Homo sapiens: one gene and its partner. The protein of the gene in region 2 purifies or fractionates together with the protein of the main gene of each other region. This does not show direct contact. Each region holds a gene or a part of one and is shown on either strand. Other genes may lie near its edges.

Region 1 (3,651 bases), on a different chromosome or scaffold from region 2:
CAAAAAAGTAAAAAGTAAAAAATTAGCTGGGCATGAAGGCACACGCATGTAGTCCTAACAACTCAGGAGGCTGAGGCAGGAGGATCGCTTTAGCCCAGAAGTTTGAGGTTACAGTGAGCTGTGATCATGCCACTGCACTCCAGCCTAGGCAACACAGACCGTAACTCAAAAATACATAAATAAATAAATAAAAATAAAGGCCTATTAAAAGGAGAAAATTACTGCCTAATTACCAATTTAAAGTGTAGAAAATTGTTAAAAATTACCACAGCACAGAATTAAGCTTTATCTTTACAAATATTTATTGAGTGCCTATTATATGGGAGGCCCTGTGGGGAGTATAAACGTGTAACAAATGTTTATCAATTACTGTATAAAATAAACTTTATTGGAACTGAAGATAAGACAATTATTGTTCTCAAGATAAACCTAAATTAGTAAAAATAAAAGTTTACAACTAATTTCAAAGTTAATCTATGTCAAAAGCAAGGATAATCCAATCAAAGGCAAAATAGCTAAGGTTAAAACCCTAAGATATTCAGACACATAACATTTTACATAAAGGAAAACTACTAACAGTGTTTTATATAGGTGAAAGCAAACATGTAAGCAAAAGTTAATTTATTTTAAGTCAATGCATATGGAAATATTTTAATTAATTAATTAATTTATTTATTTATTTGAGATGGAGTCTCGCTCTGTCCCCCAAGTTGGAGCGCAGTGGCGCAATCTCGGCTCACTGCAAGCTCTGCCTCCCAGGTTCATGCCATTCTCCTGCCTCAGCCTCCCGAGTAGATGGGGCTACAGGCGCCTGCCACCACACCCAGCTAATTTTTTGTATTTTTAGTAGAGACGGGGTTTCACCGTGTTAGCCAGGATGGTCTCGATCTCCTGACCTTGTGATCCACCTGCCTCGGTCTCCCAAAGTGCTGGGATTACAGGCGTGAGCCACCGTGCCTGGCATGGAAATATTTTAAATATTATGATAAAAAAAAGAAGCATGATTGCCCTCACTGCAACATGTATTAAGCATCTAGGTCAGGTAAGGCACTTTGCTGTTTGCTATTGAATGGCTGGGGAAAGGGAGTGACACAGTTTCTATCCCCCAAATCCAGTATTTCAGGGGATAAAGATTTCCAAAAACGTGTAATAATAATTCAATCTGAGAAAGGCTGAAACAGAGGCAAAAAGCAATGGAAGAAATGGGATAAGCATAACTGGCTCTGTCTAGAGGTGAAGTTGATGTCTGACAAGAGGTTCTCAAGAGTAAATATTTGTGCTAAACCTTAAAAGCTGAGTAATTCTCCGGAGGAAAATATATCAAAATAGGAAAATAAAGAGAAGTGCAGGAAGATGGAACAGTTCAATGAAGTAAGGTTTTGTGAACATTCATAGCCTCTCTAGAGGATGGTGAGTAGACCAGGGTTTTAGGAGATGTCGCATAATATTAGCCCAGGCTAGTCCTGGAAATCCTTGTATTCCACACTAAGGCATTTGGACTTTATCCTTAGATCAGGAACTGTTTCAGAAAGATAACAGACAGCAGTGTGGTAAAATGGAGTAAGAAAGAGAGAATAGAGGCATATGGAATTTAAATGTAAAATAGATAAACGATGAGCAGAAGTCAACAATGAATACTAAAAGGAGAGGACAGTAGTATCCTAAAAAGATATTGGCATTTTTCTTATTCTGGGTTTCCAAAGGCTAAAAAATTTTTATAACATGCTGCCTCCACACAGAAAAACGCTCCTCATTAAGAGCACTGAGTTGCCACAATATTTTTCTAAACAGAACATGTCGTTTGGATTAAAATGAGAAATCCTATTTTGACTTCAAAACAGGCTTTTGAGGAAAATTTTTAAGATGGGTACATTTCTGACCAGTCAACAGTAAAACACCTAAGGCAAGTATAGTTCACTAATAATGATAACTGACACAAAATGTGGATGCCCTACCTTGATAGTCCTGTCCAAAGAGGCACTGGCAAACTGATTGTTATCTTTGGGGTTGATCACAATCTGCATAACATAATGGGTGTGTCCTTCAAACACTTGTGAGCAAGACCATTTTTTATCCCAGTCCCAGAGCTTAATAAGCATGTCATCTAGGCCAAAAGAAAGTCTCAAGTTAGTTGTAATTCTATTTTTTCACTTCATAACTAAGACACAGTCTTTAGAAGAAGCAAACCTAACACAAACCATATAATCCATGACTTACAGAAATAGAATCAAAACCAAATAGAGTTTTCAAAATGCTTATTTATCTTAAAAATAAATTTAACTCTCTACAGAAAAGTGGAGATAAAATAAATAAAATAGATTAGAAATAGAAAATATAAAAATTCTGTGAAAAAACTTAAAAATTCAGTGGGCATTAAAGAATGGCCAAAGAGTAATATAAGTTTGACTAGATCTAAGCATGACTGAATAGTGATAGCAATGACTATGTAGAGAACAAGCATTTGCCCTCACAAGATTGGTTTTTAAAAAGTTTTTAATTACTTCTCAATTTTTAATTTAAAAACATTTCAAAGAGCTATTACTAATTCAGTGCTACCTCTTTTTCCAGTCCTCCAAGAGGTCTACTATTTATACACAATACCAAGGAGCAAACTAGTTTGAATATAAAGATTGAACTGAATAGGGTCTATGGCAATCTGCCAAAAACTCACTCATCAACATGTAAATGACCTTTCTGTTCAGCAGATGTTTAAACATCTAGACTTGTAGGTCTTCTCTGACAGGAACTGGAGCAATCATTACACAAATCCTAAGTACAGTTGATATTTCATTATAGTACAAACACAAGCAGCATCAATAGCACAGTAATGGATCTAAATAGTTTAAAGGCCGCTTGGAATTAGAATTATATTTGTAACAGCAGTTAAAGCATAGCATGTCTCAGTGAATGAAAATGAATTACCCAAAGAGACGCACATGACCAAAAAAGGTCATCTCTTACCACTGCTAGTTAGAATGAAAGGCTGGGTTGGATGAACAGCAATACAGCGAATGTAGTCTGAGTGTGCTTCAAACATATGAACTCTCTCCAGAGTATTGTAATTGAACACTCTAATCTGCATGTCATCCTAGAAACAGAAATTTTAAAACCATCATCCCTGTTATCAAGTAAATTATACAAAAAAACTATATCACAGGCTCAAGGAATAAAGTCTATGCCTCAAAACATTGCTGTAAATAACAAAACAAATCGGGAATCAAAATCCTGCAACAAATTTACACAATCATTGACCAATTCAGAAAATGGGAATAGAGATTCATATTAATTACTTACCGCTCCTGTCACAACCCAATTCTTCCTTGCAACAAACTTTGCAGCTCGAACAGGAAGATCACATACTTCAAATGTCTTCACCAGTGTCTTTAAAATGTAACAAGAATACACAAATTGAGCTATAAGAAAATAACCACAAAATCTACTCTGTTATATTTCAAACATCCAATTTTTAAGATCACTTCTCATTTTAGTATATTCTCAGGCTAAAATATAAAAGCTCAACATTCAAATTTTTAAAAAAGACCAACTATCTTTTAATAGATTCGAAATTAAAACACTTTTTAAAAGATAAGAGAAGGCAAATATCCACAAGATGGTATTCCAGATCCTCTGTGCTCCAGCCCTTCCCTCCCT
Region 2 (3,651 bases):
AAAAAATTCTGGCGGGGAGAGCAGAGATGGAGCTAGGCCTTAGAACTCCTGGGTTCGGGGCCCAACAACCCTGTCAACTCTCTCTGGGAACTTGCACAGGTCACTTTCCCTCTCTGGGCCGAGCTCCTATGTGTAGCATTGGATGGATCTCCTCTGCAGCTCCCTGCCTTCGGGACAATGCGCAGTGGATTCAGGGGCAAGGCTCCGGAATTTAATGAGAGCTCACATCATTGAGCTCTACGCTGAGCCCTTTCCTATTATGTCATTTAATTCTCAACAACTCTAAAGGTGGGTGCTTTTTAAAGTCCCATTTTATAGATGAGAAAACTGAAGCACAGAGATATTAATAATTTGCCCATGGCCACATAGCTAGTGAGTAGTAGAACAGAGGCAGAACTTAACATGATGAACCACTACCCCATACTACCTCCCTGGTGAGAACATTCAAAAGACCATGGCAGCTGAAGGAAATCAACGAGGATATTCAAATTGGCCCAGGTTTTTGAAACTGTCTTCTAAGGTTCCTCTAGACTAGCAGTTCTCAAAGTATGGTCCCTGGACCCTTTCGGAGGGTTCCTGAGACCCTTTCGGAGGCTCTACAAAGTCAAACCTATCTTCATAATAATGCTAACAATACATTATTTGCCCTTTTCACTTTCATTATTTCACAGTGTTCAGTAGAGTTTTCCAGAAGGTACATGACCTATGATATTGCAACACACTAAATGCAGAAGCAGATGAGAAAGCAACTGTCTTTGATTAAGCCAGATGTTTAAAAAGACTTGTGAAAATATAAGACAATGTCACTCTTCTTATTAACTTTTTGTTTACTTTAATACAGCTGTTTTTCATTAAAAATACGTCATTTTGTTAACATGCAAAAATTAATAATTATTTCATGTGTCCCAGTGTTCATTTCTAACACAGTAAATGTTCATAGATAGAACCCACACAAACCAAAGCTCTTTGGAGTCTTCAGTAACTTTTTAGAATGTAAAGTGGTCCTGAGGTCAAAAAGTTTAAAAACCAGTGCTCTAGACTCTAATACACTCACCCTCTCCTCTTACCAGTTGCCTATATCTTTTTTATCACAGGGTCAACCGGGAGGTTTAGACACGTGGAGAAGGAGTGTGCCTGGCTCTACCAGTTGGAACTGGGATCAGAAGTGGAGCTGAGGAGGCTGGTCCAGGGAGAATGCAGTGCTAAGAGGTCAGACCTATACCCCACTTGGGAGGTGACCTCACATGTCTGCCACCTTGCAAGCCCCTGCTCAGAGGTATGCTCAGGACAATGGGGCTGCCTCAGACTAGACTCTGACCTTTATCCCCCTTTTTCATTCCAGACGATGCTGCTGACAAGCCCGGCCTCAGGCTGGAGTCAGACTGCCCTGGTGAGGGGAGAAAGGCTCTCTGGGGCCTACATACCTGCATTTGTGTTGGGGGGGTGGGTGGAGCAACAATGCTTAGAAGACTATAAATTGGGGGTTCTAGGGCTTGTAATCTTAGGGTGAAGCCATGTCTACAGGATGGGGTCGTTAGTAGGAGAGGGGTTTCTCTTGAGATCTCCTATAGAATTAGATAATAGGATCCTATACACACCCTGCTGCAGGATGCTCACATAAACCTCCAAAGTCAGGCTCCTTCCCCAAGAATAAGCGATCAGAAATGTTTCCTACCTAGAGTCAAACTGGACAGTAGCTACTCTGTGTCTTAGGAGGCAGGCCCTTTGCTGGGTGCCAGAGGGTCCAGAGAGAGAAGAGATGCCTTTGCCAATCTGACGGAGGTACAGGCCTCACCCTAGAGGAAACCCCCGGCTAATGAGGGAGACAAGTCTCCTCCAACATCGCCATGCATGGAGAACCCTGGGCCAAGTTGCAGATGCAAGTAACAAGCAAGATGGCAGAGCAGAGAGGGAAACAGGAGAATAGAGATCTGCGGGAGGGGTGAGACTTGGAATGGCCTTTGTGAGGGTCCAGAGTGTGGGGAGGAGCATGGCTCAGAGACTGCCTGGGATATGCTCCCCAGGATCAGGGTCTGAAGAGTGCAGTTCCACAAGATATGGGGCTGGAGGGGATGGGAGAAAGGCATAAAGTCTCTTGAAGCCTGTGATTGGGAAATTTTTATCCAATGCCAACAGATGTGTCTGGGTAGAGAAAGGGCAAGATAAAACTGATGCTTCATGATGACAATTCCAGTGATAATTTCATTATAGGGTAACAGGGAAGGAGTCGAGGAGAGAGGGGGCTGGAGTCAGGGAGGTCATTAAGGAGGCTGCTGTGGGCATCCAGGCTGATGGGATGAACAAGCCAATCAGGAGACACAAGAAGAGAAGGGCATATAAACCTGAGAGAAGTTGTGGGGGCAAACCTGGGCCGGGAGAGGGAGAGGCAGGATGAAGAATACAAGAGCGATAGGCAGGACCATGGGAGCAGGAATGAGATGTGGGGGTTGTCTTGACCGACAGAAGAAGTCTCTGACAGAAGTCTTTGGCTGAAAGAGAAGTTGCTGAGAATGGGGAAAGAGACTATTTGGTGAAAGCTCAACCACTCAGTTCTCATTTATTGAATCTGAAGACAGGACATCTGCTTGGCAAAAACTTGTGGAAAGCAGGGGCTGTGGGTGTGGAGACCCCACCTCAAGTGATGCCCAGCCTATTGGAATCAAGGAAGGAAATGCATCTTAAACTGCTTGATAATTCTTCTACCTTCCCAAACTCCAGAAGGGTGGGAAGAAAAAACCTAGGACAGAATCTCAAAACAAAACAAAGCAAAACCCACAAAGAAGGGCTGGGACAAAGCCCAGGAACAAGGAAAGATGACACAGTAGAAAACATTAGAGTGGTGGGAGAAAAGCAATGGCCCACAACTCCACTTTTTACAGACTAAGGACCATTCCAAGCCCCTTACGGTAGTCACTGTGCATCCTCACAGCAGTTATGAGCCCTATTGTGAGGATGGGACTTCCTTAGCTACTAAGTGGTAAACCAGGACCGAATCCCACAAAGTCAGACTCCAAGGCCATGCTCTTAACCATAGTGCCTGCTGTCTCTCAGAGCGGAAAGTAGCCCTGGAACAGCAAGAGAGAGGTGCAGCAGCCACCCAGGGGAGGCCCCTGACAGTTGTCACAATAATCCCTGCACTCTGAGCTCCATCACTCCTCTCGGAAGCTTTAAGGATGGGCTTCTGTGTTTGGGGATTTTGTTGGTGGTTTTTGTTTTGTTTTGGTTGGTTTTTTTGGTCCAGAAAGTGGTCTCTCTTTCCTTCCCAGTCTCCATTTCAAATGTCTTTCCTTTTCTAGGATGTGCTTCCTGAGATCTAACCTAAGTCCTTCTAGCTGCAGCCACAATCCTTTCCCCAGGTGTTGTGCCATCGGAAAAGTTGCACAATGGCCATGTATACCCTTTCTGTGCTGCACCTTGTTGGAGGCTTGAGGTCTGATTCAGTCCTCTTCTAGCTCCTGCTTCTCCAACCTCCTTCTCCATGCCACAAAGTTCTGTTCTTACTTCTCTCTCACATTCCAGAGCCAGCCCCTCCCTTCCCCCACCACCTCAAATCCAGGCTCCAAGCTGGCAAACACCCACGGGAGGGCATTTCCCACAATCCCTTTCTCTTTGCCCTTTCAAGGTTCTGATGGGGGAGGGGAGGAAGAGGGG

Evidence for each region.
Region 1: the proteins of KCNJ10 (region 2) and COPB2 purify together in Homo sapiens (affinity purification with mass spectrometry, with the first as the bait; one large-scale study listed by BioGRID). This does not show direct contact.

What each region holds. Positions count from the first base shown.
Region 1 is NC_000003.12:139,376,086-139,379,736, forward strand, and holds part of COPB2 (coatomer subunit beta'), read right to left. Parts: intron 3,382-3,651; coding exon 3,295-3,381; intron 3,089-3,294; coding exon 2,962-3,088; intron 2,105-2,961; coding exon 1,956-2,104; intron 1-1,955. UniProt on the Homo sapiens protein: The coatomer is a cytosolic protein complex that binds to dilysine motifs and reversibly associates with Golgi non-clathrin-coated vesicles, which further mediate biosynthetic protein transport from the ER, via the Golgi up to the trans Golgi network.
Region 2 is NC_000001.11:160,063,642-160,067,292, forward strand, and holds part of KCNJ10 (ATP-sensitive inward rectifier potassium channel 10), read right to left. Parts: intron 1-3,651. UniProt on the Homo sapiens protein: May be responsible for potassium buffering action of glial cells in the brain. Inward rectifier potassium channels are characterized by a greater tendency to allow potassium to flow into the cell rather than out of it.